Homo sapiens: one gene and its partners. The protein of the gene in region 4 interacts with the protein of the main gene of each other region in a pairwise test. Each region holds a gene or a part of one and is shown on either strand. Other genes may lie near its edges.

Region 1 (3,500 bases), on a different chromosome or scaffold from region 4:
AACCTTATGGATGGTACTTCAATGGGAGAATAATCTCAAAGCTCCCCATGGTGGCATTACAGTAACTAGAATGGCAATTCTGGTGTTCTGTGATGAAAAGAGATTCCAAATATGTGATTTCAGAGAAATTGGGATATTTTTGCAAAACATGAGAATCCTTGTAGAGTTAATAGGCACTATTCTACCCCAACTTAAGCTAGAAACAAATTTCCCCTTTAAGATGATAACAGGGGACAAAATCCATTCTGCTTCCCCTCCCGAGTTGCTGTTGAGTCACAGATGTGCTGAGGAACTGCCCTTTCCTCTTCTGGAGAAGTTTCTCAGTGGATGATCGTGATTCAAGTGTTTTCAAGACCAAATGCAAAAATAGAAATGGCATTTTCTGTGTAGATTTCAGGGATCTGGTGTCCAATGTCAACACTGCAGAAAAAAAGAGAACTAAAAGGCAAAAAAAGGGCCGGGTGCGGTGGCTCACACCTGTAATCCCAGCACTTTGGGAGGCCAAGGCGGGCGGATCACGAGGTCAGGAGATCAAGACCATCCTGGCTAACACGGTGAAACCTCGTCTCTACTAAAAAATACAAAAAATTAGCCGGGCGTCGTGGCGCATGCCTGTAGTCCCAGCTACTCGTGAGGCTGAGGCAGGAGAATTGCTTGAACCCAGAAGGCAGAGGTTGCAGTGAGCCAAGGTTGCGCCACTGCACTCCAGTCTGGGTGACAGAGTGAGACTCCATCTCAAAAAAAAAAAAAAAAAGTCAAAAAGAGAAAGGAAGTTTTCTAAGTGAATCAGGAGACATGTTATGGAAAAGTAGAATTTGTCCCATCTTTCTTTCTTTCTTTCTTTTTTTTCTGAGACAGTGTCTCGCTGTGTTGCCTAGGCTGGAGTGCTGTGGCGTGCTCACTGCATCGCTGCAGCCTCAAACTCCTGGGCTCAAGCGATCCTTCCACCTCAGCTTCCTCAGTAGCTGTGACCACAGGCATACACCACGACACCTAGCTATTTTAAATTTTTTCTTGTAGAAACAGGGTCTCACTGTATCGCCCAGGCTGGTCTCCAACTCCTGGGCTCAAGAAATCCTCCCACCTCGGCCTATCAGTGCTGGGATTACAGGCATGAGCCACCGTGCCCGGCCCCCAGATCTTTTTTTTTTTTTCAGGGACTGTGGCAAAGTTACATTTGCCCTAAATCTATCTCTCTCATACCTTACTGACTAAGAGGGATAATTTAAACTACATGTTTTGTAAAATTTCATTCACAATCAACATGGATGATTGAAAGCAAGGATAACAGAATGGTAGGTGTTATGGAAATATACAATGAATTAATAGAAGACTTATGCCAGAGAGTTCCTTATATCCTGATTGGGAGGATGAGATGCATATGTACTAAACAGAGAACATTCAAAATTAATGACATGGTTTAGTTGTGAAAGAGCTAAAGTAGGGCAAAGTTATGTGAATGGTGGGAAGCCAGGAGAGAGAGGTTCTTACTAAGAACTAGATTAAGAAGCATCTTGAAGGCTTTGAGGAGAAGATGAAGTAGGGGAGCTGATTCTGGGAGTTTTCTTAGGTAAAAGCATAATGACTAAACTGTTATTTCCTAGATCAAAGATTGTGTCCGTAAAAAAAAATTGAACTATGAGAAAAATTGAGCCAGGTGTGGTGGTGGATACCTGTAGTCCCATCTCCTTGATCATTTTAGCCCAGGAGTTTCAAGCCAGCCTAGGCAACAGAGCAAGACCTCATCTTCATTTTTTTTTTTTTTTTTTTTTTTTGGAGACAAGATCTCACTCTGTTAACCAGGCTGGAGTACAGTGGTGCAATCATAGCTCACTGCAGCCTCGAAAGCAATTCTCCCACCTCAGCCTCCCAAGTAGCTTAATAATTTTTAAAATTATTTTTAATTTTTTTTAGAGACAGGGTCTCCCTATGTTGCCCAGGCTATCTTGAACTCCTGGGCTCAAGCAATCCTCCTGCCTCAGCCTCCCGAAGTGTTGGGGTTACACGTGTGGGCCACCGTGCCCAACAAAACCTTGCCTCTTAAAAAAAAAAAGCAAGTGTCTTATATGTTTCTGAATCTTTAGTGTTTAACAGAATGCCTGCTAAGGAATACTTACTCAAATGATTGTTGAATTTAACCGACTCTAGGACAAAAATATGAATAGGAAACATTTATCTGCAGGGCTGCTGGGAACCTGGCTTGAAAATCTTTAAGCTAGGAGTAGTTTTATCAACCTGGACAATTAGGTTGGCCCATTTTAATCTTTTAACATCATCCTTGTCCTAACCTAATCAGGCTTTTGTTCTCCATGTACTTGGCTAAGGAAACCTGTTGGCAGCATATTAATTTAGATTTCACCATGAACGTGGAGTTCCCCCCAAAGTCGAAAGAGGGTGCGGAGGACAGCAAAGTTCATTTATTAATGATACCAGAGCTACTGTTAATAGCTGTGTTTATTAAACACTTAGTATATGCCAGGTACTCATCCAATTACCTAACATACCTGAACTTATTTGTCATTCACAGTAACTCATTTGGTAGACACTTTATTACCTCTTCCTCCAGATAGGAAATAAAGGCTCAAAGGGGTAAGCAACTTTGCTGAAGGTCACACAACTAAAAAATATTGGAGCTAGGATTCAAACCCAGAGCTTGTCTGCATCCTGAATCAAGCTTGTAAGCATTATTCTTCACTATTTCTATTTTTATCTCCTAAAGGAGTATTTTCTTTTAGAATCTGGACAGAGGTCCTTATTCATTTTTATAGATGAATGAATACTTATTGTATAGCAATTAATTTTGTGTTCCCAGTGAGGAAGACTCCCAGTATAGCAGGGGAGCTGGGCTGTCAGCTGGGAGTGGAAGAAAGTAATATTCCCGGTGCAATTGCAGGAAGACTTGGGTGAGCCTGAGGGGCATCTGGCCAGCACAGACCATGCTCGCATTCATTCCTGCACATGCACACCTTTCCTTTATGGACCAGTGTTCTTCCCAGCCGTGTTAGAGGTACCCACAGAGTTCCTGGCCATTTAGGTACTTTATACCAGTCACGTATCTAGGTATGTAACCAGAATCTGTGTCTTGAAGGCATTAAAAGGAAAACCTTAAACAAATTAAATTTAACAGTGTTTAATTGAGCAAAGAACAATTTGTGAATCAGGCAGCCTCTTGAACCAGAACTGATTCAGAGTTTCTGGGGCAGCCTCATGGTCGAAGAAGATTTATGGGCAGAAAAAGGCAAGTGACATACAGGAAATAGAAGCAAGGTACAGAAACAGCTTGATTAGTTACAGCTCTACATTTTCCTTATTTGAACAAGGGTTGGACAGTTGGCTGCCTTTGATTGGCTGAAACTCAGTGAATGGTACAAAAGTAGGTTACAGTCTATTTACACATCCAGTTAGGTTACGTTTCACTACATATGGAGAAATCTTTAAGTGGAATTTAAAATATGTAAGGAGGCAGCTTTCAGCTAAACTTAACAAAGGTGAAAAAGCTG
Region 2 (4,132 bases), on a different chromosome or scaffold from region 4:
ACCCACAGAGGGTGAATAAAAAGTCTTTGAGTGGCTGGGCGCAGTGGCTCATGCCTATAGTCCCAGCACTTTGGGAGGCTGAGGTGAGTGGATCACTTGAGGCCAGGAGTTCAAGGACAGCCTGGGCAACATGGGCAAAACCCCGTCTCTACTAAAAATACAAAAATTAGCCAGGTGTGGGGGCTGTCCCCCTGTAATCCCAGCTACTCAGGAGGCTGAGGCATGAGGATTGCTTGAACCCGGGAAGGAGAGGTTGCAGTGAGCCAAGATTGCACCACTGCACTGCAGCCTGGGCGACAGAGCAAGACCCTGTCTCAAAAACAAACAAAACAAAACAAAAAGTCTTTGAAGGCAGGCATGGTGGCTCATGCCTGTAATCTGTAATCCCGGTGCTTTCAGAGATGGGGGTGGGAGCATCACTTGAAGCCAGGAGTTCAAGACCAGCCTGAACAACACAGCAAAGACCCTCATCTTTTTTTTTTTTTTTTTTTTTGAGACTGAGTTTCACTCTTGTTGCCCAGGCTGGAGTGCAATGGCGTGACCTTGGCCCACTGCAATCTCCGCCTCCTGGGTTCAAGCAATTCTCCTGCCTCAGCCTCCCAAATAGCTGGGATTACAGGCGCACACCACCACACCCAGCTAATTTTTGTATTTTTAGTAGAGACGGGGTTTCACCATGTTAGCCAGGATGGTCTCGCGCTCCTGACCTCGTGATCCACCCACCTCAGCCTCCCAAAGTGCTGGGATTACAGGCATGAGCCACTGCGCCCAGCCTATTTTTTTTAATTAGGAAAAATGTTTTTGCCATTCTCACATTGCTATAACACCATCTCTATCTGTTTTAAGTATTTGAATACCTTCTGAGCCTGTTTCATTAAAATAAATAAATAAAAGGAAAAAAAAACAGTCTGTGAAGTTCTAGTTACCCATAATCCCCTCCTGTCTGTGAGATTATTCTTGAAACACCTGTCAGGTCTCACTTACCCACGTCTATGAAACATAATGCAGGCAAGGGAAGGCCAGAGTAAATAGAGAAATCTGAGATGCAGAGATAGTTTCTTGCCTTGTGGCCAGAAAAATGTGTGGAAGGGGATAGGAAACCATAAATTCCCAGTCGGGCTGGTTTTTAAACAATAAGCTGGGGTCAATGTGCCAGCTCAGCTGAGTCACCACAGCTTGGCAGCAGGCCCAGCCAGCGGGAGGAGAGGGAACAGCAGCTAGCAGGGAGATGCTGGGGGATAGACAGGGCTGCTGGGGACTGTTGTACAGGCTGTGCACTGCTCAAGGGTATCCAGAGCCCAGCTTTGTATCTACCAGGAAGAAGGGGCTCCCCTCCCCTCCCTTCCTCTTCCCTCCCCTCTCCTTTCCTCTCCTCTCCTTTCCTTTCCTTTTTTTTTTTTTTTTTGAGATGGAGTCTTGCTTTGTCGCCCTGGCTGGAGTGCAATGGCATGATCTCGGCTCACTGCAACCTCTGCCTCCTCGGTTCAAGCAATTCTCCTGCCTCAGCCTCCTGAGTAGCTGGAATTACAGGTGCACACCACCACGCCTGGCTAATTTTTTTGTATTTTTAGTAGAGACGGGGTTTCACCATGTTGGTCAGGCTGGTCTTGAACTCCTGACCTCGTGATCCGCCCACCTCGGCCTCCCAAAGTGTTGGGATTACAGGCGTGAGCCACCATGCCTAGCCTTTTTTTTTCCCCCCCTGGAAAAGGTGTAGCCATAGGCGCTGACTGAGGTCCTGGGAACAAGTCTCCAGAGGGCAGTGGCACTCAAACCCACGTACCTGGCTGGCCTCCCAGAATGTGAGCTGAGCCCAAGCATGCTGTGAAGCCAAGATGCAGAGGTTGATGAAGGCACAGCCCATGGAGATGTGGAAGTAGAAGGGGAAGAGTTTGCTCTGCACTAGTCCGAAGGTATGTCGGGGAAGGCTTCGGAAAAGCAGGAAGCCTGCAGGGTATGGGGACCACAGGGGTGTTAGGGCACTTCCCGGTTCCCCTCTTATTTCCATCCCCACCCCAGGTACCCATGACATCCAAGCTGAGGGTCCCTACCTGAGACGAAGGTCACCCACATTTGCATGCCCCAGGCACCTGACAAGACCAGTAGATGGACCATCTTAATCAGGCCTCCTAGGTTCCCGCCTTCCTCCATCTTGCAGTCCTGGGAAGGAGGCACCGGGTGGCTCAGAACTTTACCTTTGCCTCATGCGTGGCCTTCAGACCCTGTGAGCCCGCTCGGGGACAGGGTTACGGCCAATCCAGCAGAGATTCTGGCAAAGCATCCCGGGAATGAGAGTGAGAAAGGCCCAAAGCAGTCAAGGCCCAAAGACAACCCTCGACCCCATCTCTCCAAATGTCAGCCCTCAAGATCTCAGGCTCTCTGGACCTCAATCTCCATGCCACTTCAGAGGCCCCAAATTTCAGCCACAGCAGCTCCAGATCATAGCCCTAGGTCTTCAGAGATCACTCCACTAATTCCCAAATATCACCCCAGGGATCCAGTTCTGACAGCCAAGACCACTCCTCTCATAAAATAATACCGGATATTAGGTGAAGATCCCGAAAGCCCCGAGGAAACCCTAAATCTCATCCTGAGGACACCGATCCCACCAAAGCCCCGAGGAAACGCCAAATCTCATCCCGAGGACACCGATCCCACCGTTAGGAACCGGGACCTCAATCCGCAGCACCCGGATTCCGAGAACAGAGGCGTCGGGGCCAAATGGGCTGAATCTGGTACCTCACTCCCACGCCCCCGGGTGGACAGCGACCCTCCTCGGCCGCGTCCCCTCGTGGGTTTCCCCCAACCAATAATTCGTCCCGCCTCCCAGCTGAGCCCGAAGCCAATCGGGTCGTAGATCTGCACCTTTCTATCCCGCCCTCCTGGGTATTGACTAATCGTAGAAACCCCCCTGGGATCCCGCCCCCTCCACGGGCTTTTATCCAATTACGCCGCGGCTACTAAGCGCAGCTGAAGCGTGAAGGCGCCAATGAGGCCTTCGGCTACTCCGGCAGGGGCGGAACTAAAATGCCGGCCACACCCCTCTCTGTGACTCAGTCTCTGAGCGTTTTAATACGATGGTGTCCCCGCGGGATCAAACTTCAGCGTCACAGCTGAGGACTGGCTTCGTGGTCCCTGATGGGAGAGCATGAACAGGTGGTATGTGGTAGGTGGGGTTCTGGAGCCTGGCGGGTGTAGATTTCACAACCCAGGGGGCGGAGCCAGGATGATGACCCCGCCCCCTCCCTAAATAATTCTCCCGGGAGGGACACGGAAGCAGCAACCGGGATGGGACGGGGAGAGAGGAGGCACTACTGGGGACCTAAGCTGGTTCTCAAATGCCTCTCCTTTTCCCCTCCAAGCCTCCCAGGCTTCCTATGGTCCCTAAGTCCCGGGTTCTCAGCGTGACATTCCAGAGCAAACACAGCTCCCCATTACTCTATACCAGGCACTGGCATGGATTAATTTATCTAATCACAACATCCCAGTAAGGTGACTATTATGACATCTCGTTTTTATAGTTGGGGACACTGAGGCATGGAGAGGTTCAGTAACGCGACCAGTATTACACAGCTGGAAGGGACAGAGCTAGGATTTGAACCCAGGCCATCTAGCTGGAGAGTTTCCCTGCTTAACCGTCATACTCTGCTGTCCCTGGAAGTGAGGACCTCCCTGAGGCAGTGACTCTCGGAGGGGCAGCTTAGGACATTTCAGGCAGAAGAAAAACGTGTACATCACAGGGTGGGTGTGAAGATCCAGTGAATGCTTAGGGGATGCCCGGCACTCAATTAGGTGCTCAGAAAATAGGAGCCTAAAAAAGGATTAAGGAAGATTTTACTGAAGATATGCTGAATAGTTTTTGTTTGTCTGTTTGTGTTTGAGACGGAGTTTCGCTCTCGTTGCCCGGGCTGGAGCACAGTGGCATGATATCGGCTCACTGCAACCTCCGCCTCTGAGGTTCAAGCGACTCTCCTGCCTCACCCTTCCAAGTAGCTGAGATTACAGGCATGCGCCACCACGCCTGGCTAATTTTGTATTTTTAGTAGAGATGGGGTTTCTCCATGTTGGCCAGGCTGGTCTCGAACTCCTGACCTCAGGTGATCCACCTGCCTTGGCCTCCCAAAGTGCTAGG
Region 3 (3,500 bases), on a different chromosome or scaffold from region 4:
AATTCCCACTCGCCCATGCTGTATTAGGAGTTGAGCCCAAACTCTCTCCCTCACTGTAGGACCCTGTTGCAGTGGTCCCTATGCCCAAGGCAATGTTCCTGAATAAAGACTTCCTTACCGTGTTTTCACAAGTGTCACTGAATTTTTTTTTTAACAAGAAAAAGCTATAAAATGTGTCATTTTGACTCAGGAACTCCATTTCTAGGGCTCACTTCTAGGAAATAATAAAAGAAGAACACACAAAAAAAGTATGCACTAGGTTGTTCATTGCAGTATTGTTTATAAACTGCCTAAATGTTTCATAATTGAGGATTGTTAAGGGAACATGGTACAGGCACACCAAAGATAGAATAATAGTGAGTGATGAAAACTCGGGTGGGCATTTATTTCTACCATAACAAAAAAAAAGTAGGAGGCAAGACCCTTGTTTAAGGACTAAAGAGCCACTGACAATAACAGGGTACAGCCTAGTGCCCAGATCTTTTAATGTCTATATTCGATATCTGACTTATCTGTCGATTTCATCTGCTATGAGTTTCTAGAATCTGAACAGCTCTTGAAATACTTTGCTGCTTAATTATGGAGCAAAGTAGGGTCCTGTAGGAGAGAGAGACTCAGTAGAAAGCCATGGAAGGGGGAGAAATACAGCTAGCATTTGATCAACCTTTTCACCAGAAGTTTTTATACCCAAGATTATAAACATTATTCTCTCTGTATTTATGGATGCAAACTACAGCCCTGGGGAGCCCCAGTCTTGGTTCTTTGGGGGTGATCTTGGGCAAATCCTGTTTCTCTCAGCCTTTTTGTTAATAAATAAAAAGCATTATTTCATTTTTTAATCCCTAGGACTATTGGAATAAAAGATTTAAATTAGAATAAACATTTATCTACTTAGGTATAGTATGCTTTTAAAACTTTTAAAAATTAAATTTAAAAAGAATCCTTAATAACATGAGAAAAATACTTACGATATAATGTTGAGAAAAAACAGAAAGTCAGAACAGACAATTATAAATATAGGATAATTGTGTGGGGGTAAAAAAAAATGCACTGAAAATATCAGGAAGGAAGGGCACCCAGGTGTTGGCAGTGATTTTCTCTGGTTAGTTATGAACACTTCTTTTTTATATATATACTTTTTTATTTCCTAAATTTTCTATCACAAGTGTAATAGAAATAATAAGGGTGGGGGGAAAAGGTCCTTGGAGGTGGGGAGAAAAAAGTACATATGCCACCCACATCATCAACACACACCCAACAAGTTAACTAGTATTTACTTAGTACCCACCAAAACCCAGCTCAGCCACAGTCTCTGTAGCAGGGAAATTAAGGGCCAAGCCCCACCCTGAAGGCTCACATATGTAGAATATATATACTTTGCTTGGCAAATAAGCTTGGCTCTGATGATATTCTTATTGAGGTTGGAAAATAACAGGACTGTTTGCTTAGCCAGCTCAGCAGAATAAACGAATCCACTCCCACTGGTGCGACCCCTTCACTGGAGTTCCCTGCGAGGCTCCATGGCTTAAAGCCTTTCTGGATCACTCTTGGGAAGAGTCAATTTCAGGGATACTTTATAGCCCAGGAAGAAAACTGTTCTCATCCCTTAACCCAGGCACTGAATGCAAGAGGTGAAGAGGCTCCCCATGAGGCAGAGCAAGCAAGGGAGGAGGGAGGAGCAGGAGGGCCTGGGAAGGAACCTGACAGGCTGTGTGTGGGCCCTGGGGACCCCTGGGCAAAGGAGCTCACGTCTCCAGGCCTGAGTTTCCTCACTGGTAAAATGGGTCACATAATGACAACCCCAGGACTATTGTGAGACTCAAAGAAGAGAACGTAAGTCCTTTCATTTTTCTAAACTGAGCCTCAGTTTCCTCATCTGTAAAATGGAGTCACTATCTCTCCCCTCGTAGATCTGTTAAAAGATTAAAGCAGATAGTGAAAGCAAAAGGTGAACATACATAGTAAGTGTGTTACATATGGTGGCCCTTATTATTGTTGCTTGTAGAGCAGGGAATGGGATACATCAACAAATCCTAGGCCTCAACTCCCTTATCTGCAAAATGGGGCAATCAATTCAGTCCGAAAAGATTAAATTCAAGAACAGTAGCTGAATCACCAGTTGCACCACTGCGGGCTCACTTTGTGTCTCAGACATGCCGGACCCAAGTACATGTGGGGAGCACAAAGCCCTCCAACTCAGAGGCCATCAGAGCTGGGAAGGCTGACATTATGCTGTCCACCCTACAGTGCAGAATGGACACTGGGGCCCAGAGAAAGGCATGCATTAGCCCAAGTCACCCAGTACTTTGTCACTGGCAAAGCCAGGACCCAAGCCCAGGCCTTCAGCTGCCTACCCTTGCCCACAACACCCACTGCTTTTCTCTGCCCTATTCTTAAATTGCTGATGTGGTCCCAGGCAGGGCAGACGAGAGCAGGCATATGGCAGGGGAGGGACAGAGGGAAGGGGAAGCTGGCCAGCAGCAGGAACTGAGCCTGCCTGTGGTCTCCAACTTCACAAACCACATCAGGCTGAAATATGACACACGCTCACTCCGTTGAAAGCGAGGAGATATTTTTACTTAACATCCCCCGGCTGCCTAAACACTGGTCTCTTTTTTTCCCTTCCTCCCCAAAATGCATAACCCCTGGGACGTGCTTTTCTCTGCTTCTGCTGGCATTTTCTCAGGGAATAACCAAGGAGCAGGAGAGTGTCCAGTTTTCCTGGCTTCGCCAGATAGATTTCCAGAGCATAAGCTTGATTGATGAAAAGGGGGGACCAGTCCTGGCTGGGCTCTCACCTCACCACATGACCTTGCTGGGCAAGTCCTGTGTCCTTTTGGAGCCTGGATTCCCTGAAATGGAGGGGAGATTGACCTGCACTGAGGGTCCTGCGGATGGCACAGGAAAGCATGAGTTTACAAACAGCCCCGGGAGGCCCCTCCAGGCCTCTCTGCTGCAGGGCTGAGCTCTCCAAGCTCTGCACACCGACACCCACCCCTCATAAAAGCATAACAAACTCCCTTACCAGTTCTCCTAATACCAGGACTAGAAAGAATTTTCAAGAGAATGTTTAGTGCTGTCATTAATAGCTATGGCTCTGTCGTCAGACCTCTGGAATCCTTGCACCATCACCCAATAGCCACACAACCCGGGGCATGTTATTCAGCCTCGGACTCAGTTTCCTCATCTGTAAAAGAAGATACTAGTATCTACCTCAGAGGAATGGTTGCAAGGAATCAATAAAGTAATTAATGTTCCAGTGCTTGGTATATTAAAAGATAGCTTTTTTTGTCTTTTCTTTTTTTGTTTTGAGACAGTATTGTTCTGTCATCCAGGCTGGAGTGCAGTGGCGTGATTTCAGCTTACTGTAACCTCCGTCTCCAGGGTTTAAGCAATTCTCATACCTCAGCCTCCCAAGTAGCTAGGATTACAGGAGCATCCCAGCACGTATTTTCAGTAGAGACAGGGTTTCACCATGTTGACCAGGCTGGTCTCAAACT
Region 4 (4,182 bases):
GTTCAGTTTGTTCTTTCCCTTAAAATAGGAAGATAAGGGCATTATCCCCCTAAGTCTCGTATGATATTCCCCATTCTGAGTCCAGAATACCTAGAAATTTGGAATTTGGCTATTGCCGTGTCTGGACTGTGAGTATGGGAAGGGGAAGCTTTTCTGTCTGTTGTCCCCACTACCGCCCCTCACATCCGTGATTCTGAACCCCATGATAAATGCCCTTTGAACCTTTTTCCTCCTTTTGATGCCGAATCCCCTTTTATGGGACTCCGCCAGCACGGGTGCATTTAACCTTCCTGAGCTTGCCCACCTGACGCATGCAGCCAAGAAGCTTTGAAAGATGGAGTGCCCTGGCTGAGGGTTCCAGGTCTCAGCAAGGCCACGAGGTGGTGACTGCCTCCCAGAACTCTGTTGGGCCACCCTCCGTCCTGGAGACCCCCAAAACCTCCATAGCACCAACTCTGCCCATTCACACACACAGTCAGCCCTCCCTCCCGAGTCCACCGCGGGCAGAGGGCCAGCCACCATGCCTCCCATAGCCGCCATCCCTGGGAAGGAGCCCTGACCCCGTCCTTACACCCCTCTACACTCACTGCCTGTGGGGAGAGCTGCTCGCTGTCACAAGCATCCAGGGGGCTGGGTCGAGGGGCCCCCTGCATGGTGGGGGACCATGTTGTCGTGCATGGAATGAAACTGGCCACACATAACAGATATGGTGGCGCTCTGGTCGGATCTAGGGGAGTCTGTCCTACAGGATGAGGCTTGAACTGTCCTGAGTGACCAGACACCCAGCCTCTGCTTCGAGTGCTCAGTTATGATTATTGTCCTGATTTAGTTAACTGTTCTTCAGGGGCTCCAGGAGGACGAGTGTGTATCCTCCCATTGCTCTGTGCAGCCTCTAACCTCTAGAGTCTAGGGGTCTGGGGAGAAGTTGGGAAGTCTGGCCAGTGGGGCCGGTGCCTGGTGACCTCGGGAGGTGGGATATCATCATCTTCAGAACTGTAGTTGTTACTGGGATACCAGCTCTGGGAGACCACAGGTGCAGTCAGCACAGCAGGACCTTAGACAAGGCACCCAGCCCCAGTTTCCCCACCTGGGAAGGGGGCTACTTGTGGCTAGAAGCAGCCCGGACTCCTGAGCAAGACTAGACCAAGAGGCCGGTATGTGGACACCCCCGCGTGGGCACCCCCACGGGGACACCCTGGCCACCGCCGCGCGGACACCCTCACGAGGACACCCCGGCCGCGCGGACACCTACCGCGGGGACGCCCCGACCCCATCCTACCTGCTGCGCCCCGCGCCGCGCCCCGCACCCCGCCCGCCACGGCCTGCGTCCGCCACCGGAAGCGCCCTCCTAATCCCCGCAGCGCCACCGCCATTGCCGCCATCGTCGTGGGGCTTCTGGGGCAGCTAGGGCTGCCCGCCGCGCTGCCTGCGCCGGACCGGGGCGGGTCCAGTCCCGGGCGGGCCGTCGCGGGAGAGGTGAGAGCGCTGGCTAGACCGGGGCCGAATGCGGCCGGATTCGGGGCGGGGGCCTTCAGACCTAGGGTGGAACACTGGGATAGGGTGTGGGGAATTCGGACCGCTGTGAAGTGATCTGACGTTGGGTGGGAGTCTCCGGACTTGGGGTGGGGAATCTGGATGGGAACTGGGGAATTCGGACCTTGGGTGGGGATCTTTGGACCGGGGTGGGGTCCCCAGACTCCTTGTGGAAAGCTGAGGTTGAAGATCTGTGCTGTGATGAGGGGCTCCAGATAGCGGTGAGAGATCCCGCTTCAAGACTGGGTTGGGGGTCCAGACCAGGAGGATAAGCCTCTCCCTGGAGTAGGGCTTGACCTGGTGAGGGTGTGGTAGAGTCACAGGGGAGGGTCCCACTTGGTCCTTGGGCTGGGATCAGACTCTCAGAGCTGGAGAGTTGCAGGAGGCCTGGGGGAGGGTCTGTGGAGCCCCAGACTCAGAGGGCCTTGGTGACTTCTCCAACAGGCTCCCTGTTGGAGGCCTTGGGGTACCCCAGGGCCTTTCCCTGCAAGAGAGAGGCTGCTCCACCAGGAAGGGGCCCAGGACTCCCCAGGGTCGGGGGGATGTGTGGTGTGCAGGACCACGTGGGAATGTTAGAGAAAGGGGAAGTCACTCCGGGCCTGCCCTGCTAACAGACCTGCTTTTTGGATTTTTCCAGCCAGGGATTTTTGTGTCCTGTTGCTTTTTATTGTTTAAAGTGACCCTCCAAGCCTGAGGGACCGTAGGAGCTGCCCTGCAGAGCCCAGTGAGACACTAGTTAATGCAGAAAAAACAGATTTTACTTGGTAACTACTGACAACATGAGAAAAAGCTGGCTCCATGCTGATTTGTCTAGATGTGCCTGGAGTTTAAAGGGAGAGTGAGGGAGTGGGAAGGGGTGGGGACTCAGTAGAGTTAGGGAAACAGAAAATCACCAAAACTGGGAAGGGAGGGTTGGCCCCTGTGAAACCAACTGATCTGGGTTTGCCACTGGGGCTTACCGAAGTCAGGCCCCCAACCTCCCACAGAGACTGGGAGACAGGGGCCCCATCCTCAGGTGTTGGCTGGAACACACAGGAAATTCTTGTGGCAGCCTTGAACTTCTCAGGCAGGCACTTTAGAGGGGGCTAGGATCGTTCTGGGAATGTGGCCTTGAGCTGTTAGGAGCTATGTTAGTGTTCGTTCCAGCCTAGATAGGCCAGGGTGAGGCCCAGTGGAGAAGGGGACTCTAAGGAGCCTGGCTGGAGTGTGGGGAGGGAGGGTCTTTGTCAGCACTCCCCCTGTGCAAGAAGAGCAGAGACCTGCTTCTTTCCTCTCAACAGTCCCCGTCCATTTTCTGTTCTGTGTTGTGTTCATAAACTACCAGCGGGACCATCTGTTGAGACTTGGTAGCAAAGGATTTTTGCTGGATGATGCAAGCAGTCAAGCATTTAATGAGGAAACAAAAATAACAGGCCAGGCACAGTGGCTCATGTCTGTAATCCCAGCACTTTTGGAGGCCGAGGAGGATCACTTGAGGCCAGGAGTTTGAAACAAGCCTGGGCAACATAAAGACCCCATCTCTACAAAAAATTTAAAAATTAGCCCGGCGTGGTGGCATGGGCCTATAGTTCCAGCTACTTGGGAGGCTGAGGTGAAAAGATCGTTTGAGCCTGGGAGGCGGAGGCTGCCATGAGCCATGATCTTGCCTCTATACTCCAGCCTGAGCAACAGAGAGCCCCTATCTTTAAAAAAAAAAAATAATAATAAAATAAAAAAATAAAAAGAAAGAAAGAAATAAAAACAAAGATGAATGGAGCTGTTGATAAACCCAGTTTTTGAGCCTACAGGGCAGCAGTTGAGGTTTCTGGCCGTTGGGCCCTAACAAGGCCAGCAGGGGCACTCAGGGACTTCCTGGTGTGTGGTGTGAAGTCTGTGATGATGGCATAGGCATTGGTATCCCAGTTGTGGTTACTTTCTGGAGAGAGCATGTGGCATGCAGGAGCTGGAGGGGGGGTCTTCCTGGGCGGCCTGTGTAGCAGCAGCTCCAGGCACAAAGGCTGCCCCTGGAGAATCTGTTGTGGTTCTGAGTTCTTTCAAGTTTATATCAAGTTTTCCGGCTTCAGTCTGCAGGGCTGTTTTTTTCAGATCCTGGGGGCAAAGGGCAGCTACAAGACCACCTGAGTCCCAATAGGGATTTGAGTTCTTGGTGACACCAAGTCAGGGAGGAGACAAATTAGAAATGTCAGTCTGAAGAGAGTGGTAGGTAGCCAGATACTGAAGGAAAGTAGATGGGAGGATTTGGTAAGGGCTGACGTGTAGGAAGGCAGTGACAGTCCAAGTGACAGGCAGATCATAAAACCTCAAGGATAGGCCGGGCCCGGTGGCTCATGCCTGTAATCCCAAGCACTTCGGGAGGCCGAGGTGGGCAAATCACCCGAGTCCAGAAGTTCGAGACCAGCCTGGCTAACATGGCAAAACCCTGTCTCTACTAAAAATACAAAACATTAGCCGGGCGTGGTGGTGCACTCAGGAGGCTGAGGCGGGATAATCGCTTGAACTGGGAGGTGGGGGGCTGCAGTAAGCCGAGATCGCACCACTGCACTCCAGCCTGGGCAACAAGAGCGAAACTCCATCTCAAAAAAGAATTAGGCCGGGAGCGGTGGCTCACGCCTGTAATCCCAGCACTTTGGGAGGCCGAGGCGGGTGGAT

Evidence for each region. Proteins that work in one complex are often made in the same cells at the same time.
Region 1: the proteins of COMT (region 4) and SLC7A8 interact in binary tests that used the Homo sapiens proteins (3 or more experiments, as listed by UniProt).
Region 2: the proteins of COMT (region 4) and TMEM205 interact in binary tests that used the Homo sapiens proteins (3 or more experiments, as listed by UniProt).
Region 3: the proteins of COMT (region 4) and GSN interact in binary tests that used the Homo sapiens proteins (3 or more experiments, as listed by UniProt).

Annotation. Positions count from the first base shown.
Region 1 is NC_000014.9:23,177,161-23,180,660, reverse strand, and holds part of SLC7A8 (large neutral amino acids transporter small subunit 2), read left to right. Parts: intron 1-3,500. UniProt on the Homo sapiens protein: Associates with SLC3A2 to form a functional heterodimeric complex that translocates small and large neutral amino acids with broad specificity and a stoichiometry of 1:1.
Region 2 is NC_000019.10:11,343,469-11,347,600, forward strand, and holds the start of TMEM205 (transmembrane protein 205), read right to left. Parts: upstream 2,801-4,132; 5' UTR 2,152-2,800; coding exon 2,052-2,151; intron 1,948-2,051; coding exon 1,784-1,947; intron 1-1,783. Other genes in the region: CCDC159 (coiled-coil domain-containing protein 159), read left to right, coding at 3,149-3,159. UniProt on the Homo sapiens protein: In cancer cells, plays a role in resistance to the chemotherapeutic agent cisplatin.
Region 3 is NC_000009.12:121,271,162-121,274,661, reverse strand, and holds part of GSN (gelsolin), read right to left. Parts: intron 2,853-3,500; exon of another isoform or gene 2,799-2,852; intron 1-2,798. UniProt on the Homo sapiens protein: Calcium-regulated, actin-modulating protein that binds to the plus (or barbed) ends of actin monomers or filaments, preventing monomer exchange (end-blocking or capping).
Region 4 is NC_000022.11:19,940,422-19,944,603, forward strand, and holds the start of COMT (catechol O-methyltransferase), read left to right. Parts: upstream 1-1,382; 5' UTR 1,383-1,476; intron 1,477-4,182. Other genes in the region: TXNRD2 (thioredoxin reductase 2, mitochondrial isoform 5 precursor), read right to left, coding at 1,280-1,382. UniProt on the Homo sapiens protein: Catalyzes the O-methylation, and thereby the inactivation, of catecholamine neurotransmitters and catechol hormones. Also shortens the biological half-lives of certain neuroactive drugs, like L-DOPA, alpha-methyl DOPA and isoproterenol.